Linked DNA regions of Homo sapiens. The protein of the gene in region 3 purifies or fractionates together with the protein of the main gene of each other region. This does not show direct contact. Each region holds a gene or a part of one and is shown on either strand. Other genes may lie near its edges.

The links.
Region 1: the proteins of SPPL2B (region 3) and SLC30A6 purify together in Homo sapiens (co-immunoprecipitation; 3 studies listed by BioGRID and IntAct, with this or other methods). This does not show direct contact.
Region 2: the proteins of SPPL2B (region 3) and GHITM purify together in Homo sapiens (co-immunoprecipitation; 3 studies listed by BioGRID and IntAct, with this or other methods). This does not show direct contact.
Region 4: the proteins of SPPL2B (region 3) and LMAN2 purify together in Homo sapiens (co-immunoprecipitation; 3 studies listed by BioGRID and IntAct, with this or other methods). This does not show direct contact.

Annotation. Positions count from the first base shown.
Region 1 is NC_000002.12:32,168,845-32,175,864, forward strand, and holds part of SLC30A6 (zinc transporter 6), read left to right. Parts: intron 1-2,442; coding exon 2,443-2,529; intron 2,530-5,218; coding exon 5,219-5,303; intron 5,304-6,474; coding exon 6,475-6,517; intron 6,518-7,020. UniProt on the Homo sapiens protein: Has probably no intrinsic transporter activity but together with SLC30A5 forms a functional zinc ion:proton antiporter heterodimer, mediating zinc entry into the lumen of organelles along the secretory pathway.
Region 2 is NC_000010.11:84,134,651-84,142,523, forward strand, and holds the start of GHITM (growth hormone-inducible transmembrane protein), read left to right. Parts: upstream 1-4,858; 5' UTR 4,859-4,943; intron 4,944-6,811; 5' UTR 6,812-6,850; coding exon 6,851-6,979; intron 6,980-7,873. UniProt on the Homo sapiens protein: Plays an important role in maintenance of mitochondrial morphology and in mediating either calcium or potassium/proton antiport. Mediates proton-dependent calcium efflux from mitochondrion.
Region 3 is NC_000019.10:2,338,684-2,345,703, forward strand, and holds part of SPPL2B (signal peptide peptidase-like 2B isoform 2 precursor), read left to right. Parts: exon of another isoform or gene 1-68; coding exon 69-158; intron 159-381; coding exon of another isoform or gene 382-385; coding exon 386-525; exon of another isoform or gene 526-607; intron 608-1,140; coding exon 1,141-1,283; intron 1,284-1,392; coding exon 1,393-1,489; intron 1,490-2,214; coding exon 2,215-2,331; intron 2,332-4,527; coding exon 4,528-4,609; intron 4,610-5,281; coding exon 5,282-5,356; intron 5,357-5,678; coding exon 5,679-5,741; intron 5,742-5,869; coding exon 5,870-5,969; intron 5,970-6,569; coding exon 6,570-6,647; intron 6,648-7,020. UniProt on the Homo sapiens protein: Intramembrane-cleaving aspartic protease (I-CLiP) that cleaves type II membrane signal peptides in the hydrophobic plane of the membrane. Functions in ITM2B and TNF processing.
Region 4 is NC_000005.10:177,348,668-177,356,120, forward strand, and holds the start of LMAN2 (vesicular integral-membrane protein VIP36 precursor), read right to left. Parts: upstream 3,002-7,453; 5' UTR 2,981-3,001; coding exon 2,785-2,980; intron 2,625-2,784; coding exon 2,506-2,624; intron 1-2,505. UniProt on the Homo sapiens protein: Plays a role as an intracellular lectin in the early secretory pathway. Interacts with N-acetyl-D-galactosamine and high-mannose type glycans and may also bind to O-linked glycans.

The DNA.
Region 1 (7,020 bases), on a different chromosome or scaffold from region 3:
GTTGTAAAATTTGTAGTTTATTCTGATAGCAATGGCGAGCCAATATAATTTTGGGAAGAGTGATATGACATTAGGATTTTTGTTTTATTTTCATTGTCAGGATGGCATCAGAAGTGGCTTTCTGCCTCTTAGAAACCTTGTTGATTCTCTTAACCTGAAACTTAAAGTTGGCTAGGGTTAAACAGAAGATGTCCAAAATAACAGTATTAAGGAGAATTTTTTAAATCTTTGGAACCAAAATAACTCACACATAATTCTTTAAGAAAAGAATATATATACATATGTACATACACATATATATAATATTTATACATATGTACATTTATTTATGTATTTATTTATTTATTTCGAGATGGGGTCTCGCTCTGTTGCCCAGGCTTGAGTAAAGTGTGAACCTGGCTCACTGCTTGACTTCCCGGGCTCATGCGATCCTTCCACCTTGGTGTCCTGAGTAGCTGGGACTACAGGCATGTACCACTATGCCTGGCTAATTTTTTTCTTTTCAATTTTTTTGTAGAGACAGGGTCTCAGTATATTTCCTAGGCTGGTCTTGAACTCCTGGGCTCAACTGATCCTCCTGACTCAGTCACCCAAAGTGGTGGAATTACAGGCATGAGCCACCATGGCCAGCCAAGAAAAAGATATATTTATTGGCTGGGTGCGGTGGCTCACGCCTGTAATCCCAGCACTTTGGGAGGCCAAGGCGGGCGGATCACGAGGTCAGGAGATCAAGACCATCCTGGCTAACACGGTGAAACCCCGTCTCTACTAAAGGTAAAAAAAAATTAGCCGGGCGTGGTGGTGGGTACCTGTAGTCCCAGCTACTCCTTCACCGCAGAATGGGGCTGCGACAGAGTGAATATCCTGTTTGCCGTGTAGCCTATATTTAAAATCAGACTGTCCTCCTCAAAAGCAGCTGGAACTGAGGTTCAAGAGATGGATGTGACTGTGTATAGGGAGAGGCATACCATTTTTATTTTTAAAGTATCAAGAGAAATCATGATTTCACATTAACAATACAAAGTTGCAAAAGCAAATGTGAATAATGAGCAGGTACTGATTTGGCCAGCTTTATAAATGTGTAACTTTTAAAACTGGGTTATTCATCTTTTTAAAAATAGTTTGTGGAAGCTCATTGTGTATAGAGAAAATTGGCCTATTGTCTGTTGTGAATTATAGTTTTTTTTCAGTTTGACCTTCTTAAAGTTTTTTTCCCCCTTAAGGGTATTACATTCGCCCATGAAATTATATAGTAAAATCAATCAATTTTTTTCCTTTAGAGCTTCTTGGGTTTTATGCCCTATTAAGAAAGGCTTCCCCCAACTCCCAGATTATAAAATAATACATCTAGACTTTCTTCAGTCAAGTACTCTATAAATCTGTATTTTATTTTTAAAAATAACAACAGAGTAAGGAGTAACGGTAAGGGTGAAACATTACCTTGATCAAAATACCATTTATTGACTGGCTTATATTTTCTCCCAGTGATATTGGATACTGCTTTTCTCATAAGTTAATTTCTCATATGTGTTTGAACTCTCTGTTCTGCTAAGGCTTTCCCATGTGATTTCCTAAACTTGGGTGGTTAATCCCCTCTAGTTGCCACTTGGTCTCCTCTCTCATTGGTGAGCCCTATCTTTACTATCCCCAAACTAACTATACACTAGCAGGGGCCAGGGAGACTAGCCAGGATGTCAGATACTTTGACTGAATGCCTAAGAGAGAATCTCAGGGGTTTTACTATAATAGTTGCCTGAACTTACTTTCTTTTTGAGACAGAGTCTCACTCTGTCACCGAGGCCAGAGTGCAGTGGCACAATCTTGACTCACTGCAAACTCCACCTCCCAGGCTCAAGAGATTCTCACGCCTCAGCCTCCTGAGTAGCTGGTATTACAGGTGTGCACCACCACACCCAGTTCATTTCTATATTTTTAGTAGAGACAGGGTTTTGCCATGTTGGCCAGGCTGGTCTCAAACTCCTGGCCTCAAGTTATCCCTCTGCCTCGGCCTCCCAAAGTGCTGGCATTACAGGCATGAGCCCCAAGCACAACCACATATATAGCTTTAATTAGGTGAATTTTCAGTAGAAATTTCCAGTAGAGCTATTTGGCAAACTATTTCTTTTTCAGTTCAAGTTGCCTTATCCATTTAAAAATAAAGAGTGTGGTCTGGAGCTAAAAAGCCTGGGTTTGAATTTCTGCTCAGCCATTTACTAGCTCTGTGACTTTGGATGACTTACTAAAAGTTGTCTCCACCACATAGGTTTATTGTGAATATTAAATCCATAAATACACATAAAGTGTCTAGAATAAGTGCTTGATGTATATTGAGTACTTAATAAATATTGGTTATTTATATCATAGGAACCACTATATCATATCATAGGAACTCTGAAGATGATTAAATATCTAAATGCTGATTTGTATATGTTTGTTTGAAAGGGGACAATTCATCTCTTTCGAAAACCACAAAGATCCTTTTTTGGCAAGTTGTTACGGGAATTTAGACTTGTAGCAGCTGACCGAAGGGTAAGTTATTCCTTAACCCCAATTTTAATTATTGCACAAACAACATTATAACATTGAAGAAAGATAATTTTTAAGGCCAATAGAAATCACTCCTGATCCTGCCACACTGTTTTCATTTTTCTATGTTGGAAAAGTATTTTTTTAGTGTAAAATTGCAGTTGTTTGGTGTTAAGTTGTTTTACTTTGGTAGGAAGCTTCTGTTAAAGTTTTGATTCTAATTCTGAAGTGTTTTAAAGAAAAATGGTTTTGTGGTTGCTTTTTGTTATTAAGTTTTCAAAAAATTAAATGGATCCAGTCTAAAGCCATGTTTTCTCTTTTATTTATTTTTTTTTTTTTGAGATGAAGTTACACTCTTGTTGCCTAAGCTGGAGTGCAATGGCATGATCTTGGCTCACCGCAACCTCTGCCTCCCGGGTTCAAGCGATTCTCCTGCCTCAGCCTCCCAAGTAGCTGGGATTACAGGCATGGGCCACCACGCCCGGCTAATTTTTTGTATTTTTAGTAGAGATGGGGTTTCACCATGTTGGTCAGGCTGATCTCGAACTCCCGACCTCAGGTGATCCGCCCACCTCGGCCTCCCAAAGTGCTGGGATTACAGGCGTGAACCACCGTGCCTGGCCCATGTTTTCTCATTTTTAATGTAGGGCAAGAAAAATATGTTTTGAGACTGTAAATAAAAAGATGTAATTGCCATCCTTTTAGGCCACCAATGTAAACCTTCTAGTTACTGTGTTTCATGCTTCTCATTGTTGTCTAAATGATAAACTCTCTGAGGGAAGTGACTGTCTCTATTTTGCTCACCTTTTTATAGAAGTACAATATAAACATTCAGTAAATATTTGATGACTTTTAAGTAAAGCCAGCTTCAATGAAACAATAATAAGCAGTACCAATGGGCACTCCAATTGAAACTCTGCCATATTTTCACTATTTTTCAACTCCGTTATCCTCATTTGCTTCCTTATCCAACTTAGATTCTATGCTCCATCATTATCATTTCCCTCCTTTTTGTTCTTTTTTTTTTGAGATGGAATCTTGCTAAATTATCCAGGCTGGTCTTGAACTCCTGGGCTCAAGGGATCCTCCTTCCTCAGCCTCTTGAGTAGCTGGGATTACAGGGGTACACCACCACTCCCAGCTAGTATCATTTTCTTTTATATGTTCTCAACTCTTTTGTGCTCCCCTTCCCTCTGTCTTAATTCCTGGAAAATCCCTAACCTTCATTAAGTTCACTTTCTTTCTACTCTACTTGCATCTAAGCAACTGAATGTAACCTGAGAGAAACAAAACCATGCGACTGGTCTCACTTTGAATTCATGATCAGACAGACCATTAGTGCTGCCTATTAAGTGCTGCCTATTAGTGCTCTTTCATTTTATATTTCCTTTGTTCATTCAATTTTCCAATTTCCTAGATGGCTGTTTCATACGATGTTCTTTCGTTTCTATCCTCAAGCTTCTAATACCTTCTTCATCCTCACCCTAACCTGATGATCTTGCTTCCTGTTTCACCAAGGGAAAAGAAGTAATCAGAAGAAAACTTCTACATCCTATCATTAGCACATCAGCCATCACTCCGCCTTCCCTCCTATTTCTCTGGACAAGCTTTCAGTTCTTCTCTATAAAGGCAATCCTTTCACTTGTTGCCTACTGAAAGATGATGTCCCTATAATTGTTCTGTTTCTTACATCATTGTTTTTCTTGCATCATGCATCATTCTCCTCTTTCTTGCATCGTAATTACATGTTATAAGTTCCACTCTCAGGGCTGCTTCATTTCTCAGCTTCCTTTTGTAGCAAACCTACTTGAAAGAATTATCAGTACATTGTGTTCACCTTCTCTTCTCCTCATCTTTATTAAACACATACCAGTTAGGTACTTGTGCCCACTAATTCACATAAACAGCTTTTACAAGGTAACCAAAAATCTCTGTGTTGCCAAAATGAAGATTTTTCCTTATTTCTCACCTTACTTGGTTGATGTTGAACAGCCAAAGTCAGTACTTTTTTTTTTTTTTTTGAGACAGAGTCTCGCTCTGTCGCCCAGGCTGGAGTGCAGTGGCACAATCTCATCTTACTGCAACCTCTGCTTCCCTGGTTCAAGCGATTCTCCTGCCTCAGCCTCCCAAGTAGCTGGAAATAGAGGTGCCTGCCACCACACCTGGTTGATTTTTTGTTTTAGTAGAGACGGGGTTTCACCATGTTGGCTAGGCTGATCTTGAACTCCTGACCTCCACCCACCTTGGCCTCCCAAAGTGCTGGGATTGCAGGAGTGAGCCATTGCACCTGGACAAGATTACTAACTTTTAGGAACATCATCATGCCCTTTATTCAGATTCACCAGTTGCTTACATTTGGCCCCATTTGCTTCATCGTTGTCTCTATAATATGTACTTATAGAGACAAAACGATATGCATATGTATGTGTATTTTTCTCAACTATTTGAGAATTTCTATGTCAGAATTTATTTTCTCTTGAACAACTCTCCTTCTGGAACTATTCTTTTAAACTTGTATACTGTAATAACTTAGCCGATGACAATTTTGGTAGATGTAGAAAGTGTGACACAGACTTTTTGAAGGAAGTTATGTTTATTCCTTTGAATATCAGAGTATAAATTGTAGCAACTTGAACAGACCCCGTGAAATTTATCACTTCTGTACACATAAGAGTGATTTTTATTTTCACAGTCCTGGAAGATACTGCTCTTTGGTGTAATAAACTTGATATGTACTGGCTTCCTGCTTATGTGGTGCAGTTCTACTAATAGTATAGGTATGTCACCTTTGTATTTTTATGGAGTTGTTATTTTTACTTTTATTTTTCTCATTGGAAATAAAGGTATATCTTACATAGAATATATTATTCTGAAATGTATATAACTCAAATGATTTAAATAAGGGACTATATTTAAAACTTCCCTGTAAACTGTAAACTTTTGTTCATTTGTTAGGATTGTAATTTTTTTTTAAGTTTTTTTCCTTTTAAAATATATTTTAAAACAGAAATGGGGTTTCGCCATGTTGCCCAGGCTGGTCTCAAAATCCTGAGCTCAAACGATCTACCCACCTTGGCCTCCCAGAGTGCTGGGATTACAGGCGTAAGCCACAATGCCTGGCCATTTTCATTTTAAATAAGCTGTTATTTTTTGAAAAATCATTAAATCTATCTGGAGATTTTTTTTTTTTTTTTTTTTTTTTGAGACGGAGTCTCACTCTGTTGCCAGGCTGTAGTGCAGTGGTGTGATCTTGGCCCACTGCATCCTCCACCTCCCTGGTTCAAGCGATTCTCCTGCCTCAGCCTCCCAAGTAGCTGGGATTACAGGCACGTACCACCACGCCTGGCTAATTTGTGTAGTTTTGGTAGAGATGGGGTTTCACCATGTTGGCCAGGATGGTCTCGATCTCCTGACCTTATGATCCACCCGCCTCAGCCTCCCAAAGTGCTGGGATTACAGGCGTGAGCCACCGTGCCTGGCTGGAGATTTGTTTTTAATATAATAGATTAAAACTTTAATTTATGCAGTTTGTAAGTTAGATTTTGAGGTTTGTTGGCTTTTCCTTAAAAAGGGAATTCTGTAATTTTTTTCTTATATCTTTTTATGTTTTTTATTGCATTGTTCTTTTGTTCAGTTATTCAAACAATACATTTGAAATAGCGCTGAGATTACAGAAGCAGGCAGAAAAATGGTAACAGGGCTTTTGAACATTCATTGCTTCATTTTTCCTAATGGAGAAATCAGGTTGGGAAGTAAGCTTTTCTACCAACGAACTTTGGCTACATATATTTATCAGATTTACTAGATAACTGCCAATATATGAGGTTGGCCCGTGACTCAAAAGTTTTTTTGATAATGGATACCCCTGGTAGAAATAATTTTGGTAACTTGCTGTATTTTTTTAGAGGGGTCAGTAATACTTTTAATCATTTTTTTGTTGTTTTGCAGCTTTAACTGCCTATACTTACCTGACCATTTTTGATCTTTTTAGGTAAGTTTTTAGGAAATCTTAATGTTTTGGAGCTAATAAGGAACTTGGTAGAAATGTGGTATAGCCATACAATTCAGCAATAAAAACAGCAACTACTGATATCTTACAAGAAAACAATAAAAACATTATGCTTTGAAGACAGTCATAAAGGACCACATATTTTATGATTTCATTTATATGAAATGTCCAAAACAGGCAAATCTATGGAGAGAAAAAGTAGATTATGAAGAAGTTTTCTTTGCTTAAAGGAAAGTAATCTACTAAATAAGTAAAATTATCAACATAGAACAAACACACAAACAACAATAATTAGAGACATAACAGTAATTAGAGAGCAGGTGGGGCGGCTCATGCCTGCAATTCCAGCACTTTGGGAGGCCGAGGCGGGTGGATCACTTGAGGTCAGGAGTTTACGACCAGCCTGGCCAACATGGTGAAACCCCGTCTCTACTAAAAATACAAATAGCCAGGCATGGTGGTGTATGCCTGTAGTCCCAGCTACT
Region 2 (7,873 bases), on a different chromosome or scaffold from region 3:
AGAGAGAAAGATGGTAAATGTTTCTTTCAGACCTTTATGGTGCCGGACTCTCAGTCTTTCCTAGATCAGACAAGAGAAGACCTTCGGAGAATGCAGGACTTTATCAATGCAGACTTTTTCTACAAATGCTAATCTCTCCCACAAAAGACAGCTTTTTAGCTATTATTTTATTTCCAGCCTTTCTGAATAGTCATCTTGAACAATGTCAAGAAAATATATTTGGGGGTGAAATATTTTCATTTCCTTCAAGATCACAAAATCACCTCAAATAACAACTCACTGATAGAGTCATAGAGGGTAACACCAAAAATTTTTCTGATGAGCCTGATATCAGAGTGAATCACAGAAATCCTGTATTCTAGGCCAGTGCTCCTCAGCCTTTTTTTATTATTGCTTCCCTAGGAATTCATTTCAGATGCTTTTGCCTGATTCCCTCCCCCATGACATCTTAATGTCATAGCTTTACTAGCACATGTGCTGTCTGCATATCCATGCATTATATATTAAAAGAGAGATTTTTTTTAATCCCTCAAGCACCAGCTTTTGCCTCCATCGCATGTTCTAGACCCAGATCTACCATTTACCTTGCTATGTTTTTGATATAGTTTGTATATTTGTCCCCACCCAAATCTCATGTTGAACTATAATTCCCGTTATTGGAGGAGGGGCCTGGACAGAAGTGACTGGATCATGGGAGTGGATTTCTCTTGAATGGATTAGCACTATCCCCTTGGTGCTGTCCTTGAGATAGTGAGTTCTCAGGAGATCTGGTCATTTAAAAGTGTTTGGCCCTTCCCCGCCAACTCTCTCTCTCTTGCTCTTCCTTTTGCCATGTGATGTACCTGCCCCTCTTTGCCTTCTGCCATGATTGGAAGCTTCCTGAAGCCTCCCCAGAATCAGATGCCACTATGCTTCCTGTATAGCCTGCAGAATCATGGGCCAATTAAACCTCTTTTCTTATAAAATACCCAGCCTCGGGTATTTCTTTATAGCAGTGCAAGAACAACCTAATACCTTTTTCTTAAGAAAAGCTACTACAATTTCTGAGTGTTGGTTTCCTCTTGGAAGACTGACCAGAAAGCATGACACTAGTCTCAATTTTCTGCCAATATCTGTCCCTCCACAGATACTACCCCACTAATGACCTTGTCCTTTGGCCCACTTACAGCATTTAGTTGCACATATGTGAGGGGTATATATTGTCAGTTAGGTGAATGCAAAATTGAGCTACATTTTTCTTTAAACTGCCATCGATGTCATTTTCAAGGCCCCAGTCAGTTTAGAGCAGACAGCCTATTTATTCCATTTTGCAAGCTCAGAACAGTCTGACAATTTGTCTGTCAGTTTCAGGATTTATTACCATCAGTCACATTGGAGTTCAAAGTCCTTTCTCCTCTCCTGGGCCACAACTGGATTAGAAACATTTACATTAAACAGGAGGGGAAAAAGTGTAGCTTCTCTGTCCTTCCACTCTACCTCTTAGTCATTGCATTGTCATGCAGCTGCCGTTCAGCAAAATCTAAAGGGAGTAGTCCCCATGGCTTCATTGTCTTTCTGTGGCTGGCAGGATATAACTTTTGAAGTTGGCACAGTTTGATCTCTCACCCAAGCAGAGTCAAATGGCTCTGCCTTGTCATACACTAAATGGTCTGTTGGTGCCCATCTGGGCATCTCACCCACACATACTTCTAGTGTCGCCTCACTACTGAGCAGCATCTCGAAGGGTGCAAACAAGCAGGTGCGTGCTCACAATCACATTCTTGTGTTTATCTAGACCTTAGGGATTCCAAGGGAAAACAAGGCCAAGATGGGGAAGATCTTGTAACTTTCCTACCTGCTCTGTTGTCTGCCACTTAGCAACCACATGAGAAGCAGGTGCCAATTGGTCCCTACATTCAGAAACATCTGCAACCTTTCAGGAAGAAGCACCTTCCCTTTGTTGGGAGACTCCATCAGGGAGGGCAGAGGTTAAAGCCCCAGCAAACTCCCTTTCCAACTCTGTTTCATTCATACCACATCTTCTGATGGGAAAGCATAGTAGGGCAAGGTGAGAGCATTTATTTTAACTGAAAGTAAATAAAATATTTTATCTTTTGTCCTGGCTCTGAGTTTTCTCCACTATAATGCAGCATATCTCACTTAGCCAGCAAGTGGAGAATAAGGAATTCATCAGCAGACTGTAATAAAAACCGTGACATATATATAGTATTGGAATTTACGAATCATGTCTTTTCCTTTTTATTTACTTATTTATTCTTTTATTTTTTATTTTTTATTTTTTTGAAGTGGAGTCTCGCTCTGTTGCCCAGGCTGGAATGCAGTGGCACGATCTCGGCTCACTGCAAGCTCCACCTCCTGGGTTCATGCCATTCTCCTGCCTCAGCCTCCCGAGCAGCTGGGACTACAGGTGCCCACCGCCATGCTCTGCTAATTTTTTTTTTTTTTTTTTTTTTTTTTGGTATTTTTAGTAGAGACGGGGTTTCACCATGTTAGCCAGGATGGTCTCAATCTCCTGACCTTGTGATCTACCCGCCTCGGCCTCCCAAAGTGCTGGGATTACAGGCGTGAGCCACCACACACAGCCTACTTATTTATTTTTAAAGACAGCATCACCCTATGTTGCCCAGGCCGGCCTTAAGCTCCTGGGCTACCTCCCCAGTAACTGGGACTACATGCATGTGCCACCATTCCCGGCTTGTCCTTTTCTCTATCCTACACTCTAAGAACTTAGAAGCAGAGAACTTAACAATTAAACACTTCAAACTAAGTTTTATGTATCTACTTCCCCTCACTTGTATCTCTCCCTGTATCCTATTGCTAAATTAATGATAAAATTATCCACCCAGTTCAGAAGGATTACTCAGGGAGCCTTCCTCATTCTTATCAGCTATATTTGACCGACCATTCAATCCTGCAAACTCCACTTCAGCAATATATCTCTGTCATAAACCCCTCTGTGTCTTTCTACTGGCTTAATTCCAGCCTTTATTGCCTTTTGGTTGAACAACTACAATAAATTCCTAATTGGTCTCCTGGTCCATGGAACCTCTCCCTTCCTACACTGCCACAAGAGCATATATTTCCCAATGATATGACCAGATTCCTCCCCTGCTTCAAAATATTTGACCCCTGTGGAAACAACAATACAAGCCCTTTACTTGAGAAAGGAAAATATGAAATCAGACATTTTTCTTCCAATATGGAGAGAATAAGCTTTAATAGGAATCTTGAAGAAAGCTTGAGTCATTGACTTCAAGATCTTTATTCTGGTACTGTGTTGTAAATCCTTTCTCTTTGCTGATAACAGAAGCTCTAGAAAAAAAGACTATCACTGAAGGAGCCAAACAGAAAACCTATTTGCTAGCTAATAAAATTGGGCATAGATCAAAATAAAAATTAAACTGATCATGCTTGATCTGTTCAGTTTCGTGAGATTTCTCTAGTGTTTTCCTGCCATTTTCAGCGTAAAGAGATAAGAATTGTGTTGCTGCCAGACTCTTTTATTATCCACATAGAAGGCAAGTCTTTATATTTGTCAAGGTTTACATGATTAGGAATCATAAATCACAATTAACTACTGCTTAGGAGATAAAGGTTCATGAATTTTGCATGTTGTTAATCACCTTATCACCCTTTCAGGGTTTTAATCTGCTCTTTCTTCATGGTATTAAGTTATCACATTATATTTTTTCTATGTTCTGTCTCTACCAGAAAGTAAAGCCACAGAGCAAGGACTTTATTTTGTTAAAATAGTGGTAGCACACACGGGTTTAATTCATTTGCTGTTTTTTTGTTTTTGTTTTTTTGGTTTCTTTTTTTTTTGAGACTGAGTCTCCCTCTATCGCCCAGGCTGGAGTGCAGTTGCGGGATCTGGGCTCACTGGAACCTCCGCCTCCTGGGTTCAAGTGATTCTCCTGCCTTAGCTTCCCAAGTAGCTTAGATTACAGGCACCAATCACGCCTGGCAAATTTTTGTATTTTTAGTAGAGACAGGGTTTCCCCACGTTGGCCAGGCTGGTCTCGAACTCCTAACCTCAAGTGATCCACCCGCCGCGGCCTCCCAAAGTACTGGGATTACAGGCTTGAGCCACCACGCCCGGCTGATTCATTTGTATATATTTCTAGAACAGAGCTTGGTACGAAGTTGAGCATTCAGTAAATATCTGTTGAAATAGAGGGAGAGTGAAAAAGAAAGTAACTCTCTCGCGTATTCCACAACTAGCTCTTCACCTATCAAATTACGCGCAATGGAAACATCTTAGTCCTCAGAGCAATCCTGGGTGCAAGGCAGAGGCGGCTGTTATCAGGCCTATTACACAGGTTTAGGGTGAAACTTGAAAATGTGGGCGGGAAAGTCACAAAGCAATGAAAAAACCATCTAGAAAAAATCTTTTCTGGATGTCACCATCTAACATTTGGCATGAGACCCCAGAAACCGGATGACTCGGCTCAGAAGCAGACACATTTGAAAAGATATTTATCTCACGATAAATTAAGGGACAAAAAGGCCTTCAAAAAGGAACGGAATAAACGGAATAATTTTTAACTCTAACATTACTTTCTTTCAATTTTTACATAATTCTTATAGCTGCGGCGAGTGAAACGACTAAAACAAAAGCAAAACAGAGCTCCACTGCCCAAAACAAAGATGGCCGAGACGACTCCCATGCCCACACGCAAAATGGACGCTGACTATGACGTTCCCTGCAACAATCCTCAACTGGCCCCGCCCCACCAATTTGGAACCCCGCCTCCTCAACCCGGAACCCCGCCTCCCCCAGTGTGGCCGCTTTTCCGACAGAGGCCTGCCCGTGATTGGCTGCTCGTACTATTTACGTCCTTTCGATGTTGCGTCATGCAGTGCGCCGGAGGAACTGTGCTCTTTGAGGCCGACGCTAGGGGCCCGGAAGGGAAACTGCGAGGCGAAGGTGACCGGGGACCGAGGTACTGCTCCGGCTGGCCGGCGGGCGCCCGGGATCCCCGGTGGTCCTGACAGCCGCCCTCACGGGACCGCTGGGTGCGGGGGGAAGGGCTGGAAGCAGCGGTGCTGCTGGCTGCGTCAGGGCCGGCCTGCGCGTTGGGGTCGCAGTCCTGTGGGTGACCTGGTGGAGAGGGCGGCGGCACAAGGCCCTGGTCAGGCGGGCAAGGGCTCAGTGTAGCTGTGCTTCTGTCCTCGGGCAACAAGGTGCTGAGTCATCCTTGCGGCGAGGCCGTACAGCCGCTGCGCTGGTAGCGGCACCTGGGGCAGGGGCAGAGGTGTTGTGGGTTGACAGGGAAGTTTGCTGCCGGGTTCTCATCTGAATCTAGCGGGCTGGGTGAACTTTCTCGGGGACCAGGCACCCAAACTCATCAATGCTCACGGAGGCATAAGCCCTTGGATTAGGGTCGGTAGTATTTTCCCCATTTTATAGCAACGACATCTGAGTCTTAGAGATCCACACTCCTCACAAGGTCACTTCTAACCTGTCAGAAGCGGGATTCCCACTCTGGGCTGTTACGCCACATGGAGGTCACTCTGAGCTGGACCTCTTCGGCCCCAACCAGTGGACTGAGTACTGAGGAAGATACAGGACAGCCATAGGTTGAGATGATGTAATGGCACGAAAGTTCCAAAAGCGCTGGGTGTTTTCCCAAAGGCCGGGTGCCGAATTTTAAGACCCTTAATAGTTCAGTTGCAGAGCTCGGAGGACGCTCGGGTATCTTAAAGCAATAGTTCTTAGCTTTTGGAGTGTTCGTTAAAACACACGTTCTTGGTCTTATTCCTAGGGGTAGAATCATTAGGAGCAAAGAAAGACCCAGGAGCCTACATTTTAAGATGCATCCGGGGCACTTTCAAGCAGGTAGTCTAAGGGTCAACGCTGTAGTCTGAACACGGAATCCTTATGTTACAGATGGGGAAATGGGCCCAGAAGTATATCACTTGCCTAGAATTCACTACAAATCATTGGCAGAGATGGGCTGGTAGCCCCAGTTGGTTTACACTCGTCATTTCATTCTGACCTATTGTAGTCACCTCACCTTAGCATTACAGAAACACTGTCTGCTGACTTCTGGTTGACCACCCATCTAGTATAATGTGCCCTGGAGCTAAGATAATCCAGTTTTTAGCATGCTTTTCTTTTGAAGACACCATCGAGGGAGTCTAATGTAAGGGAAACCTGGTTGGTAACTGAGTTTACTTGTTTACTTTGAAAGACTAAATGTCCTTTACGCATTATAGTAGGACATATAGAATAGGTTAACTTAGAATATTTTTATATCTCATGTTGAAGGAAAGTAATATTTGGTATGATTAGCTGAAATTCATATAGTTGGCTTCTTTTAATACCTTTTAGCTTTGTAATGCAGTATAACCTTGAAGAGCTATTCATGTCTTCTTTGGATGACACTATTCCTTTGCCCAAAAGTTATGTAGATTCTTTTAAATTTTCCCACTGGATGCTGGTATAAATCTTAAGCCAAAACTACATTTGTAAAAACCATCACAGACTCTGTAATCACGTCCAGTTATTAACAGCCGTTCTGTGTTACACATAATTTTTGCAGTCATCTATTTTGATTGGTCAAACTGGGACTTAAACCTAGTTTGTTCCTCCATCTTCAGCTGTGTTCTCTGGGATGGGTTTCTTGCATTACAGTGGATGGTTGGGCAAAGAATTCATCGCTGAAAATTAAAAAGGTCGCTTTATTTCCTGTTCTACTAAAAAATAGTTTGTTCCTTGACTCTGACTCTCATATGTCCTTCTCTTAATTGGTTAGTAGGTTGTTTTACTTATGTTTTTTTGGTTGGTTTTGCCTTTTTTTTAAACTAGCATTTCAGATCTGCTCGGTAGACCTGGTGCACCACCACCATGTTGGCTGCAAGGCTGGTGTGTCTCCGGACACTACCTTCTAGGGTTTTCCACCCAGCTTTCACCAAGGCCTCCCCTGTTGTGAAGAATTCCATCACGAAGAATCAATGGCTGTTAACACCTAGCAGGGTAAAGATAATCTGAATGTTTTTATATTGCTTCTTTTTCCATTTGTGCCCTTTCTTTTTGGCAGAGTATGGCTGCTCTGCCTTTAGTGTGTTATACGTCAGTTAGCCCTGATAATATCCCCAATCAGCTCTTTCTCCCCATTAGTTTGTATCATTCTGGTCCCTCCTTATCCCATATGAAATAGAAAATGAGTTTCTGTAACTCTGTCTTCGCTTACAGCTTCTGGAGTTTCTCATTTAGAAAATTTAGAGTACATTGTGAGGGATTGAGAGTTACATAGTGTAACGGAGATCCTGGAGCACATAGTCAGAAGTTTAAGAACCCAGGGATATTACCAGTTGGCCAATAGCTTATTAATAAATTACTAAATATATTATCTCTTATTTAGAGGTTGATAATATCTGTCAGGTTAGAAAGAAACCCATTTTTATAATAGATTTATCTTCTGGCATTCAGATTATAAGGTTTGAAGTGTGAGGTAATGAGGACAATATAAAGAAGCTAGGAGACATTTTCTCTTTTAAATTAACTGTTCCACTGTTGAAAAAGAGCCACAATGGAAGTAGTAGTCTTCCCTCTTCTTGGCTTCATGTTAAGGAAAGATGCTGTTCTTGAGTCCATATCCCAGATGACAAAATATAGCTAATAATGCTTGTAGAATGCATATCTTAAAAATGCTAACAGATTCTCACCCTGGTATTTGGTTAGGATTTAAAATATAACAATTCTAGGTATGTAAATCTATAGTTTGTGAAAGAAACAATTTTTCTGAAATTGAAACTAAGAATAATATAATGAATTACTAACTTCCAAAGGTGGAGCACAGGGAAGGTCTACATTTATTTATTTATTTTTACATTTAGTTTTTTAAGTTGGCTAATAAATTTCCATAGT
Region 3 (7,020 bases):
GGGCACAGAGCTGGGGGCCCACCCACTGCTGCGGGTGATGCCTGCCGCTCCCTCCTCTGGGCCCCCAGGTCCCCCCGGGGGGTAATAAGACGCAGTATGATGAGATTGGCATTCCCGTGGCCCTGCTCAGCTACAAAGACATGCTGGACATCTTCACGGTAGGTCTGCGCCGGCTCAGACCCACGCTCCCGAGGAGATGGGGCAGGGGGCTTCGGGCTGGCTGCCGGGGGGGTTTGTGCCTCAGTTGGTGGGATCAGGGTGGTGGGTGAGGCGTGGCCCCTGCAGGCCAGGGTCTCCAGCCCCAGCCCCACAGCCCACAGCTGCACGTCGACCCATGGCTGGCGGGTGGCTCTGACGCCTGCCTCCGGTGTGTTCCTTGAGGCAGCGTTTCGGCCGCACGGTGAGGGCGGCGCTGTATGCGCCTAAGGAGCCGGTGCTGGACTACAACATGGTCATCATCTTCATCATGGCTGTGGGCACCGTCGCCATCGGCGGCTACTGGGCCGGGAGTCGGGACGTGAAGAAGTGAGTTTCGCATCGTGCGTGTGCTGTGACGGGGTCGGGCGGCTCTGACACGGGCCGGGACGGCCAGTCTTCCAGAACAGCAGTGAGTGCTTTGGCCTCGGCAGGCACGGCTCGCCCCGTGGAGCCCTTCGTTTCTTCCTCAGGAGGTCCTGGGACAGAATCAGTCTCTTTTCCTGCCAGGGTGGGCTCCGGGCACCTGGTGGGTGTGTAGGGCTGGGCAGGTGTGGATGTGGCAGGTACGGGCGTGGCAGGTGCAGGGCTGGGCAGGTGGCTGGGGCCAGCTACCCTCTTCCTGCTGAGCCGCCTGGGTCTGGGGAGGCCCCATGTCCAGGGCTCTTTATGCAGATCCAAGCTGCGGTTGCTGCCCACACGCCAGCCTCTGGCCCGGCCTAGTGGCCACCCCAGCTCAACCCAGGGACGCGGGCCCTGCCACCCTCTGCTGTGTGGTCTCCTCTGCCCTGGGGACGTTCGGGGCGGTTCCTTGCACTTCAGTCCCCCCCGGGTCCCCTCCTGCTCCCGGGTTTTCTGCCCCGTTCCCCCGGGTGGCTGTGGGCTCCCGAGCCCCGTGTCGGCCAGCCGGCCCCAGGGCCCCACGACCCCATGGTGTCTCCCAAGAAGGTACATGAAGCACAAGCGCGACGATGGGCCCGAGAAGCAGGAGGACGAGGCGGTGGACGTGACGCCGGTGATGACCTGCGTGTTTGTGGTGATGTGCTGCTCCATGCTGGTGCTGCTCTACTATTTCTACGATCTCCTCGGTGCGCGGCCCCGGGCGGGTGGGCCGCGGCGTGGAGATGCAGCCCGCCCCGTGCGGAGGGAGGGTGGCGTGCGGGCCTGGCCCCCGGCCTCACGGCCCTGCCCCTGCAGTGTACGTGGTCATCGGGATCTTCTGCCTGGCCTCCGCCACCGGCCTCTACAGCTGCCTGGCGCCCTGTGTGCGGCGGCTGCCCTTCGGCAAGTGCAGGTGAGTCTGCCCTGCTGGCCCCGACGTGCCTGACTCTGTGCGGTGATGGCCACGGCCCCTTTGCCGCCCCATAGCCCCCCATGGTGCAATATTGCTCAGAGTCTACAGCAGGCGCTCCCTCAGTGCTGGCCTGGGGCTCCTAGGCCCAGGAGCAGGGCGGAGTCTGGGCGAGCTATCAATGGAGCCCACCAGCAGCCAGGCGCCAGGGGTGGCGGGGGGAGGGTGCCCTTGTCCCCAGGAACCCTGCCCCAGGTCGCAGGCCGAACCCTGGGTTCCCCAGGGTTCTCCGGGGAACCCAGAAGGTTCCCCACAGCCCAGAGCTTGGCCTGGCTCTTAGGGGTAAAGGGAGCTGCTGGGGGGTCTCCAACAAAGTCAGACCTGGGTCTAGGAAGCGGGGCTAGCCCAGGGGGAGACCTTTTTGTGTTGCCGTCCCTGGGTGAGGAGGTGGGAGGTCTGGAGCAGGCAGGGCCTCGGGCGAAGGGGCGCAGCGCAGGCGAGGGGCTCTGTGGGTACAGCCCGTGGCCCCCAGCGCCTGCCCGGGTCGGGCTCTGCCCTGCCCTTGGGGTGCCTACTGTTGTCATCGTGTGGGATGTGGAGTTTAATGAGGACAACAGAGTGGGGGCTGCCACTCTGCAGGGGGTGCCTGGGCCGGTCCCAAGGGTGGTGGGCAGTGGGATGAGGCCGGGAGCTGGTGGGCTTGGCTCTGACTGCCCCGTGCCCCCCAGGATCCCCAACAACAGCCTGCCCTACTTCCACAAGCGCCCGCAGGCCCGTATGCTGCTCCTGGCGCTCTTCTGCGTGGCCGTCAGCGTGGTGTGGGGCGTCTTCCGCAACGAGGACCAGTAAGTGCTGCTTCCCCCGGGCCCCGGCGGGCAGCGGAGTCCTCGGGTGCACCAGGGCTCCTGGGGCCCTGACTCCCTGCCCTCCCTGGAGGCCGCCCCAGCCTGGAGCTGCTTCAGCACCGCGTGATGAAGAGCCCTGGCCCCGGGCTGCTCTGACAGGGCTGCGAGGGCGTTTCACCTGGGGTTTGTCCGGGTGTCATGGGAACCCTGACTGGAATCCGGGAGGAGAGGCCGGAGCCCCTGTGGCCAGGAGCCACGTCCTCCAGCCTGGATGGGACTCCTTTGTGGGGCATCGCTGCCCAGGGCCACAGTCTGTCCCCCGCTGTCCCTTTCCTGGCACCCACGTGCACGCCGCAGGTTCGAGGCCCAGGGTGTGGGCACCAGGGCACCCGGTCCTCTTGGTCATGACTGCTGCGGCTTCTGAGCAGTGGTGGAGGTGGGGCAGGCACTGCTCCCCCCACGCTCACCTCCCACGTGGCCTGGACTTGTGGCTGCCTCCCGCTGGCCGGGCCTCCCCCATGAGGCCGAGTGCCTGGTGCCGTGTTGGGAGGACAGAGCTGGCCCGTCCCCGCCCGGTCCCCACCGCTGTCGCTGATACCATCTGGCACTTCCTCCCAGCCTTCCTGAGGCAGCCAAGTACGCTTGGCTTTGGTGTGTATTGGAGCCACGGCACGTTTAACTGGCAGAAGGAAGATGTGAAAATATTTTGAATCCTTTGTACACAAAGAGAAAATGAATCTTTTCAGTTATTTCCAAGCCAGGAAACTCGCTCCGTCACATGAAGTTAGAGCAGGCCTCAGTCAGCTGGGCGCAGGGGCTCACGCCTGGGATCCCAGCATTTGGTAGGCCAAGGCAGGACGATCACTTTGCCCAGGAGTTCAAGACCAGCCTGGGCAACAAGCGAGACGCCCTATTTAAGAAATAATATAAAATCAGAAAAAATAACTGGCCGCAGTTCTCTGGGTGCTTGAAGTACGTGGCGCCTGGAATTGGCTGTACCAGCGTCTCCCATGGAGGCCTCTGCTGTTAGCAGCCGCCCCGCCCTGGAGATGTTTTTATCCCATTTTCAAATGAAGCCTTTGATGTTTGAGACGCTGAGGAACGCTGGGGAACTCGTCCAGCAAGTGACAGGCAGAGCCTGCATTGGGGGCAGGGGCCAGCGGGGAGGGGACTCTGGGGCTTCGTGGGGCCAGGAGAGAGCCGAAGTTGCGGCTGGCTGCAGGGGCCGTGGCCTTGTGCAGGAGGCAGTTCTGTGCTTTGCCCCAGGGCACCAACCGCATGGCAGCCCCACCCACTGTGGACCCAGAGGTTCTTTGAGGAAACCTGGTGTGGCACAAGTTTTAATTTAATAAACAGTTTGGGCACGGGGGCTCATGCCTGTAATCCCAGCACTTTGGGAGGTGAGGCGGGCAGATCACTTGAGGTCAGGAGTTTGAGACCAGCCTGGCCAACATGACAAAACCCCATCTCTACTAAAAATACAAAAAAATTTGCCTGGCATTGTGGTGTGTGCCTGTAATCCCAGCTACTTGGGAGGCTGAGGCAGGAGAATTGCTTGAACCTGGGAGGTGGAGGTTGCAGCGAGTCAAGATCGTGCCACCAAACTCCAGCCTGGGTGACAGAGTGAGACTCCATCTCAAAAACAAAATAAAAACAGTTTGGAGGGGTCAGTGCCCAAGCCCTCCTGCGCACGCACCCTCTGCCTGGCCCCTGCCTACAGCCTGTGACCCCTGCCTACAGCGTGACGCCCACCATCCGGGGACAGTGACTGAGGGGACGCAGCCGGCCAGGCCCGTGTCCACCATCCTGGCCCCACCATCCGGGGACAGCGACTGAGGGGACGCAGCCGGCCAGGCCCGTGTCCACCGTCCTGGCCCCACCATCTGGGGACAGCGACCGAGGAGACGCAGCCGGCCAGGCCTGTGTCCACTGTCCTGGCTGCCGAGTGGTGGGCTCCTCTACCTGCTTCCGCAGGGTGGGCCCTGGGGTGGGGCCTGTGCCGCCAGCCCTGCTGGAGTTGTAACAGCAGGGGTCCTCCCACAGGTCTGGGGTCCTCAGAGTCATCCCCTGGGCAGGTGGAAGGGCAGTGGGGCTGCGTGCTGGCTGAGAGCAAGGGCCCTGTGTGGCTCGTGGGAGGCGGCGTCCTGGGTGGTCAGCCAGCCTCTGCCCCGGCGAGGATGCTGCTTTGTCTTGCAGGTGGGCCTGGGTCCTCCAGGATGCCCTGGGCATCGCCTTCTGCCTCTACATGCTGAAGACCATCCGTCTGCCCACCTTCAAGGTGAGTGCAGGGAGGGCACGGCTGCGGGGCAGCATGGGTAGTGGGGGCCCTTCATCCTAGCCTGGCCCGTGTGGGGCTGTGGTCCTTGCAGGTCTGTGCTCCTGCTCACTGCCCTGGGGATGGCCGCCTAGGCCTGTTGTGAAGGGTGGGGCTTGAAGATTGGGTCCCAAAGCCCCCGCTGAGGCGGCCTGGGTGGGTGGCTGCGGGGCGGTTCCCGGCAGGGGCAACTCATGTCTAGATGAGGTGGTGGTGAGAGTGGTTGAATAGGGCTGGAGGAACTGGCCTCAGGTGGTACCGGGAGTGCGGGGATGTTGTCAAGCCCCAGGCGGCTGCACTCCCGTGAGGGCCCCACAGCACCCCAAGCAAGCGGCATTTGAATGCCCAGGATGGCCCTCTGTATCCCCAGAGCCGGCCCTGCGTGGCACAGGCCTCCGCCCTCCCGTCCCCGCCTTCCTGTTACGTGGAGACTCTAAAAGCCTGACTTTTGCCCGTAAATCCCTACCTGATGTTGCTTCCAAAGCTCCTCCTGCGTGGTGCGTCCCTGGCACTGGGCACGCTCTGCTCAGGTTCCTTTAAAGGCTGCCTCCCAGGAGGAGGCGCTGGGCCTCATGAGATGGGAGTGGGGGAGGCACGGGCCGGGGTGGGGGCCGCCCTCAGCCGTGGGCTTCGCAGGCCTGCACGCTGCTGCTGCTGGTGCTGTTCCTCTACGACATCTTCTTCGTGTTCATCACGCCCTTCCTGACCAAGGTAGGCGACTGCCTGTCCCTGCTCCACCCCATCACCCCGCTCCCCCGCCCCCTCGCAACCCCCGCCCCATCACCCCCCCCATCACCCCGCCCCCTCGTCCCGCCCCCTCGTCCCCCTCCACCCCACACCGTGCTCCCCTGCCCCCCACCCCATCACCCCGCTCACCTCCACCCCATCACCCTGCTCCCCTGCCCCATCACCCCCCATCACCCTGCCCCTTGCACCCCCCCATCGCATCACCCTGCCCCCTCGCCCCATCACCCCACTCCCCTGCCCCCCCACCCCATCACCACGCTCCCTCACTCAACCCCATTCTGTGCAGAGTGGGAGCAGCATCATGGTGGAGGTGGCCACTGGGCCCTCGGACTCAGCCACCCGTGAGAAGGTGTGTCTTCTGACTGCAGGGTCTCAGGTTGCCATGGGTCAAGGTGTTGCGCGGAGCGGATAGGGCTCGAGGCATCCCGCGGCCGGGTGAGGGTCCTGGAGGACATTGTCCTCTTCCCGTCTTTGCAGCTGCCCATGGTCCTGAAGGTGCCCAGGCTGAACTCCTCACCTCTGGCCCTGTGTGACCGGCCCTTCTCCCTCCTGGGTTTCGGAGACATTTTGGTGCCAGGTACTGAGGCGGGTGGAGCACACGGGTCCACGCTGTGGGGCAGGGCCCCGGGCGGCTGAGGTTTGCCTTTGGGAGTGAGTGGCCCGCACACCGTCGGCTGGAGATAAAGCCCTGAGGGTCAGAGTCGGGCAGGTTGGGGCCGTTGAGGCCTGGGTGCCTGGGCAGCGAGGGCATTGCCTGGGTGGGGTAGGGACCCCCTTTGTTCCTAGGGAGCGGGGAAGGCCCCCCGATTGCAGACAGCCTCACCCCATCCTGCTCGGGGTTGTGCAGGGGTCCTTGCTGGGGCCTGGATCCCGGGTCCCAGTGAGCTCATGTTGCTGCAGAAGGCAGAGACTGTACCCTCGCAGCCTCAGTGTCCCCAGGGTCCTGCCAGGTGTGTCTGCCTGGACTTTGTTCTCACTGTGGTCTCAGTTTACCCACTGAGAGTCATGGCAGCCCTGTCCCGAGCGAGCGTGTGGCCTGTCTGTGAAATGACAGCAGCCACCAGGCAGCGAGAGGCCCACGGCGCCCACAGGTGCTCAGGTGCCCGCCCGCTCCCAGGAAGCCCCTGCTCTGAGGCTCTGCGGGCCCGAGTAAGCCTCCGCCCTGTGCCTCCCCCAGGGCTGCTGGTGGCCTACTGCCACAGGTTTGACATCCAGGTACAGTCCTCCAGGGTATACTTCGTGGCCTGCACCATCGGTAAGTGCCTCGGTTGGGCCCGTGCTGGCCTCTCTGGCTCCAGCCCCACCCCGACTTAGCCTCTGTCCTGACCCTGACCCCTAACCCCAACCCCAACCCTAACCCTAATTCCAACTCTAACACCGTAACCATAACACCCTAACCCTAACCCCCTGGCCACTCCGGGAGCTGGGCTCGGGTGGCTGGGCCTGTGCCTGCATCCCCCTCTTTCTCATTCTCCCCGGGCCTGTGCCTGCAACCCCCTCTTTCTCATTCTTCCTGGGCCTGTGCCTCTGTCCCCATCTTCCTCATTCTTCCTGGGCCCGTGCCTGCATCCCCCTCTTTCTCATTCTCCCCGGGCCTGTGCCTGCAACCCCCTCTTTCTCATTCTTCC
Region 4 (7,453 bases), on a different chromosome or scaffold from region 3:
ATAGAGCATGACTCTGTCTCAAAAAAAAAAAAAAAAAAAAAAAAAACCTCTACTAAAAACACAAAAACTAGCTGGGCGTGGTGGTGCACACCTGTAATTCCAGCTACTCAGGGGGCTGAGGCAGGAGAATCACTTGAACCAGGAAGGCGGAAGTTGCAGTGAGCCGAGACTGCGCCACTGCCCTCCAGCCTGGGTGACAGAACAAGACTCCGTCTCAAAAAAAAAAAAAAAAAAAGTGGATATCAAATTGCAATATTTAGATTCCACTGAATGTTTAAAATACTGAACAGTTTTAGTTTAAAATGTCAATATTTAAAATATGCTGTCATCCTTTGCAAATACTTAAACCTAATGACAAACAATTTTTGATGCCAACTTTTCAAAAGGTTGCTACAACAGCAAAGAAAGCTTAAAGACCACTGCCGCAGCCTCCGCACAAGACCCCCAAAAGGACAGGGCCTGAGCAGCCTCCCCAGGTCCTATGCTGCAGCCACCAGGCACTTAAGAGTTCTAGTCAACTCTGAGCCACTCCTTCATCTAGACCACCCCCCCTGCACCACAGCAGGAGCTATTTTATGGCTGCTCAGAAGACAGCAGGTGTTCAGGGAATGTTCGCCTGAGTGCATGCCTCTCCCGGATGGAGTGAATGAAGGAGATAAAAAAGGGAAAAGTTTAGGAAGCATCTCTCCAGCTCATTAAAGGAAGAGGCAGTTCTTGGGAAACACTGAACAGAAAATTCTGATTTCCAAGCCATTTCTTTCCAGAGTTTACAGGAAGCACTCCAAATGTTTCAGGAATATCAGCAGAGCCAAATAGAAAGGTGGAGGAAGGAAGGCAAAACAATTGTACTCCAGACTGAAAATTCGATGAAGGCAAGTGCAGAAGCCTCTCAGTCCTGTGACATCCTCGAGCCACTGATGATGCCAACCATCAGCTATCTACAACCAAAATGTAAGCCACTGTCTTAGATGCGTCTATTACTTGTGGCTACTCCTGATTTCTACAGTTCCAGCACTGTTTGCACCTTGCTTTCAAAAAATAATAATAATGCTATACTGAACTCATTTCCATGAAAAATATAAGGCTGAATTATCATTTCTTTAAAATATCTGAAAGCCCTAAGACAGAATGTGACAGAATGTGACTCGGGGGAGATAGGGTGGTTAATGAAGAAATGTCTGCGTGGGTGGCACTTGAATTGAGACTTAACAGATGAGAAGGAACCAAGCAGGCATGAGGAGCCAGGAGGCAGTGTCCCAGACAGAGGGAACAACAGGTGCAAAGGTCCTGAGGCAAGAAGGCAGCCAGGGGGGGCTGGAACAAAATTAACACAGAGAATGACTGGAGATGCACAAGGGGCCAGATTGTGCAGACATAATGCATGCTTACCCCTTCACAGGGGACTCCACGCTCTGAGGATCAGACTGAAAGCTGAAGAAAGTATCCGCAGATGCCACTAACAGCAGTGTGGAGGCTCGGGGCAGGAAGGAGAGGAGGAGCAGAGGGGACGGGCAGACCAGGCAACACAAGGACAGTGTGGGTTCCCAGAACTAAACAAGAAAGTCAACCAGCAGGGATCAGAGAGCAGGGTGATGGAGAAAACTAGAACACTGGCCAACAGCTTAAGCCATGGGAAGGGCTGAGATTAGGCAAGCTGGGGCAGGAGCAGGTCCCGCTCCAAGCTGTAACCCAGCCCCAAATTATTCTTCTTTCCCCTTTTTCCTCACCTTGACTGCCTCAGTGTGGATTCTGTGTAGCAGCTGTCATTGGCCACTGCTCACATACTACATACTACATACTCTGAGGCAAAGGTCACAGACACTAGAACTGCCCACAGGTCCAGTCCCTCCACACTACTGATGACAAGACCCTCAACCAAGCATTGCAAAAAGGGTTCTAAGGGGTTCCTCCACTGTCCAGGTGAAAAGAGTCAAGTACATCGAGTGAACTGCTGGGCTTAGAGATCAGACAAATCAGAGTTTAAATACTGTTTATGACATTTGCTAGCTGGGTTATCTTTGTATAGTCATGAAAGCCATCTATTTCAAACAGCTTGTTTGAAAATTAAATGCAATAAGGCATGGCAAGGTCAGTGCCTAATACACAGCAAAACACCCAATAAAGATCCAGTTCGCTCGGTTCTTCCCATTACTGAGGGGGTTCAAGGCAGACAGCCTGACAGTTCCACTACTTTCTGGCTATGTAACTTTGGGTAAGGCCCTTTCAAACCTGAGTCTTAGCTTCTCAGTGGGTAAAATGGAGATAACATTACTCATCTCGCATGGCTTTTAAAGTGAGGAGGATGTAAAGTGTCAAGCGCAGCTCCTGACACATAGTAAGTACCCAATACCCATCGCCTCTTATTATTGGTGGGTGTGACCGAGATGAGGAAAAGGCCAGGGACGGAGGTGCAAACCTATAAACGAAGCTGGGGTCTCAGCTGCTCGGGAGGCAGGGACTAGCAGCCAACCGCACAGTACGCCTATCCTCTTGAGAACCACTCACCTGGTGGTTCCAGATAGAGCCCTCTTTGCTGCGCTCGTCAGGGGTCAGACGTACGTACTGGCTCGTGAGCATAGTGCTGCCCTGGAAGTCCCAGAGGGGCATAGAGCTGGAACCGACCCCTGTGGGAAGAGACAGGTGCTAAGAGGCCACGCCAGGACTGGCCTCACCAGAGGCAGGAAACCCACAGAGATGCTCTGCTCAGGAGAAAGGGCACGCCTTCCCCTAGCCCTGTTCAGCCTCGCCCTCACTCTTCACTCATTCCCGCCCCAAGGGCTTCACCTTGGTAGGGCTTAATGAGCGAATGCTCCCGCTTGAGATGTTCACTGTTGCCGTCAGTTATATCCGCAGTCACAGACCCCAACAACAAAAGAAGAAAGAGAGGTGTAGTGGGGCCAGGGCCGGGGCCGAGAAGCCCAGGCCTTCCCAGGCACCGCCGGCCCCAGCCCCAACGCCAAATCCAGCCTTCCGCCGCCATTCTCCTCTCCTCTCGGCCACTTCCGCCCTAGAACTTCCGCCTTCCGGGGGTCCCATCTATTGGCCTCCGGCCGGAAGCTCTTCAACTTTACTGTCGCCAGGGAGTCAAAAAGCAAAGCCTCCGCAGCAGACGGGGCGGCAGCTGCATTGGCCGGGCAGCCTCTCATCCTGGTTGAGTGCAGTTTCATCTCCTTAGAGGCTCCAAGGCACACGCCGGCCAGCCCCAGCAATGGGTTCTTTCGAGCGACAAGAGCTGTAACCAGTCACGGAACAGCACGTTAGGCTTGCGAGCCAATGAGGAGCAGAGGGATGGTTGGAGCCGGCGGGAGCGCGAGGGCCGTCCGCGACTCGGGGCATGCTGGAATTTGTAGTTTTTGTCGGTCGCTCTAATGGGGCGGATTCGCGAAGACTAGGACGTCTTGGGCTTCTGGCCGCAAGTCCCGTCTCTGGAATAACCTTTTCTAGTCCTGGAGAAAGGAGCTCTGAATTGAAGGCGGAGTCCTGCATTCCAACCCTTGTCCTCCCCGGGTGGCCCTGGGCAAGCCTTTAAGCCGTGCCTGCCGTCAGGCGCCCCAGCTTCGCGCCTTTGGAGACTCAGAATTCCCAATTATTTGAGGGCCTCCACTACCCTCAACTCCTCAGGCCTAGTCGGGTTGAAGCAAGAGGAACAGACACAGATCCTGGCCTGGGACCCCAGTGATGACTGGAACTCATCCCTATGCAAAAGAGCGCAGTGCCTGGTACAGCAAGTAACGTCCATGGAAGGCCCAGGAAAGCTGTGAATCAGAGGTCGAAAACTGGTGGCCTGCAGCTGAATAGAGCTCTGTTTTACCTGCCAATATTCTAATAAATGGCTTAACTACCAGTATTTTAAAGTCAGAATATAGAGGCTGGGCGTGGTGGCTCACGCCTGTAATCCCAGCACTTTGGGAGGCTGAGGCCGGCGGATCACGAGATCGGGAGATCGAGACCATCCTGGCTAGCACGGTGAAACCCCGTCTCTACTAAAAAATACAAAAAATTAGCCGGGCGTGGTGGCAGGTGTCTGTAGTCCCAGCTACTCGGGAGGCTGAGCCAGGAGAATGGCTTGAACCCAGGAGGCAGAGCTTGCAGTGAGCCGAAATCGCGTCACTGCACTCCAGCCTGGGCGACAGAGCGAGACTCTGTCACACACACACACACACACACACACACACACACACACACACACAAAGTCGGAATATGTACATTCACATCAGAAATCCAGACTTCCGGCTGAGCTCAGTGGCTGAGGCCTGTAATCCTAGCACTTTGGGAGGCAGAGGCGAGCAGATTACCTGAGCTCAGGAGTTTCAGACCAGCCTGGGCAACACGGTGAAACCCCGTCTCTACTAAAATACAAAAGAAATTAACGGCGTGGTGGCGGACACCTGTAGTCCCAGCTACTCGGGAGGCTGAGGCAGGAGAATTGCTTGAACCCAGGAGGCAGAGGTTGCAGTGAGCAGAGATCACGCCATTGCATTCCAGCCGGGGCGACAGAGCAAGACTCTGTCTCTACAAAAAAAAAAAAAAAGAAGAAGAAGAAGAAGAAAAGAAATCCAGACTTCCGTTTTTTTACCCAAAAAAAAAAAAAAAGAAGCAGCAGCAAAAGATCTAGGCACACATTCCCACAACAGAACAATAGGCTGGAGCTGAATGGGACTGCCCCTCCACCAATGCCTTCCTCTTCTAAGCTGGTCCCCACCTGGTCACTCGTTTACAGCACTTGCCTGGCTCCTCCAGACATTTGAATCAATGACTCCTGTTGTAGATCACAGGGAGGGATGTTGGTTGCTTGCTCCTTTTAGAAACTGCCCTCTTGAATGAATGGACTTATTCAGGATTGAGTGCTGAATCTTTTCTTGGTCATATATTTTTCGTTCGCTTTTTTATTATTAAAGTCACACATTCTGGTCAGGCACGGTGGCTCACACCTGTAATCCCAGTAGTTTGGGAGGCCGAGGTGGGTGGATCACTTGAGGCTAGGAGTTCGAGACCAGCCTGGCCAACATAGCGAAACCCTGTCTCTACAAAAAATTAGCTGGGTGTGGTGGTGCACACTTGTAATCCCAGCTACTCAGGAGGCTGAGGCACGAGCATCACTTGCACCTGGGAGGTGGAGGTTGCAGTGAGCCAAGATCTTGCCACTGCACTCCAGCCTGAGTGACAGAGTGAGACTCTGTCTCAAAAAAGTCACACATTCTTGTGGTGTGTATGGAAACAGAGAGAGAACAGACATACAAGACACAACAAGCCAGGCATGGTGGCTCACACCTGTAATCCCAGCACTTTGGGAGGCCAAGGCAGGTGGATCACTTGAGGTCAGGAGTTCGAGACTACCCTGGCCAACATTGTGAAACCCTGTTTCTACTAAAAATACAAAAAATTAGCCGGCCATGGTGGCGGGTACCTATAATCCCAGCTACTCAGGAGGCTGAGGCAGGAGAATCACTCGAACCCAGGAAGCGGAGGTTGCAGTGAGCCAAAATTGTGCCATTGCACTCCAGCCTGGGCAACAAGAGTGAAACTCCATCTCAAAAAAAGAAAAGAAAAGAAAAGAAAAGACACAACAAAAGTCTTCTGCCACTCCCCTCGCAAGGAGTGTCCCCTTCCAGAGATTTATCTGCACCCATACAAACAAAAACATGCACATTCCATGGGACCTTCATGGGGCTGGGATTTTTGTCAGCTATGGTCACTACTGAATCCCTGGCATCTAGAATAGTGCTTGTCACATAGGAGGTGATTAATAAGTAACTGGTGAAAGAATGAATATTTGTTCTAGAACCTGGAATTGGGTCATGAAGAATGAGTAGGAGTTTTCCGGGAAAGGTAAAGGCATTCTCAGCAGAGAGAAGAGGAGCTGCAATCTAGGGAGGGATGTGTGAGAGCAGATGAAATACAAGTAGTTTGGAATGGCTGAGAAGTTGGAGTTGGGGGCTGCGGGGGAGCTGAAGCCAAAACTCAAAGGGCCTTCAATTCCCAAGTAAGGAACATGGCCTTTTCCCAGAACTCAATGGGATATTTCTAAGCATGGGAGTGACCAATGTGGATTCCTCTAGCTATGGTGAGGAGAAGAGATTGGAGCGGGGATAATAGGGAGACTGGATTCATCATGATCGGGGGAGAGAGGGTGAGGCCTAAGCCAAGGAGGTCTTCACAGAGAAGAAGGATCTGAAGTCCCAGCCAGAGACTAAATCAGGAACTGATGCCCTGTGGGCAGCCAGGAAGGGAGAAGTCGAGGATGGTGCTTTGTGGGTGGAGGTACTCCACCACTCTCATGGCATGGAGAAGACTAGATAAGGGCTAAGAGATGGGAACAGCCAGGGCTAGCTGTGGTGAAGATGTGGTCAGAGCTAGAACTGGCATCCATGGTGGAGAGAAGGGAAGAGGTGTCTCTGCAGGAGAGTATGAACTTCAAAGGGAGTCCCAGGCAGAGACTGTGACTGTCCTTTGGCAGGAAGAAGATGAGCTGTGGGCATCTGTGGTGGCCAAAGCCCAGTTCCAGGCACCCCAAGCACACTCACAGCTTAGCAGATCTCTAAGAGGATGTATAGCCTTGGGCAACTCACTTCTCTCTGAGCCTCAGTTTCCTGATCTGTGAAATGGTAATAATAAGCACCATTCACAAAGTGGTTGTGAGGACTAGGACTGTAAAGCCACCTAGGAAATGGCCCAGATCCATGGCACAGCAGACAGGAAGTCTTCACCCATATCACACACCCTACAACCCCCACAGGCACATTGAAACAGTCACACACCTTATTAAGACCACCATTGGCAATGGTCCAGGCCCAAAAGCAACCTCCACCGTAACCCCTTTCACACATCAAGTCTGACTGAATCTCTCTGTCTGTGTGGCCTGAAGCAAGGTGTCTGGAGAGAGGTGAGGCAGTGCTGGGAGAAGAAGTGTGTTAACTAGGGCAGTGCTAGCTGCTATAACAAATAGGCCCTAATGTATATAATGACCTGAAAATTTTTTTGATGTTTCTTTTTTTTTTAACTATTTTTACAAGGTTTGTGCATCTGTCAGGAGGCTCAAAAAATTTTACTTCCCACTTACATAATGGTCTGAAGCTGGTTTCCAGGTTGATGGGTGGCTTGCCTTCAGGCACTGATACACAGACCCTGCTTTTTCCTTCTTGTGGTTCCACAATCCCCTGGGCCTCCTCATCTTCTCTATCCATCCAGCTGAAGGAGAAAGAGGGAGGGTGCAGGGCACACACTTACTTCTTCAAAGCCTTGGCTCAAAAATGACACATGTCATCCCACACATTTTCAATTGGCAAGAAGTGGTCACATGTCCACATCTGACTGCAAGGGAACCTGGGAAAGTAAAGTTAGCCACGTGCCCAGGAAAAAAGGACATGAATTTGTGGTGAAGAGCTATTCAGTTTCTGCCACTGAAGAGTTCAGGTCACAGCCCTAGAAGGGGCAGTGGGGCAGAGGGTAGAAT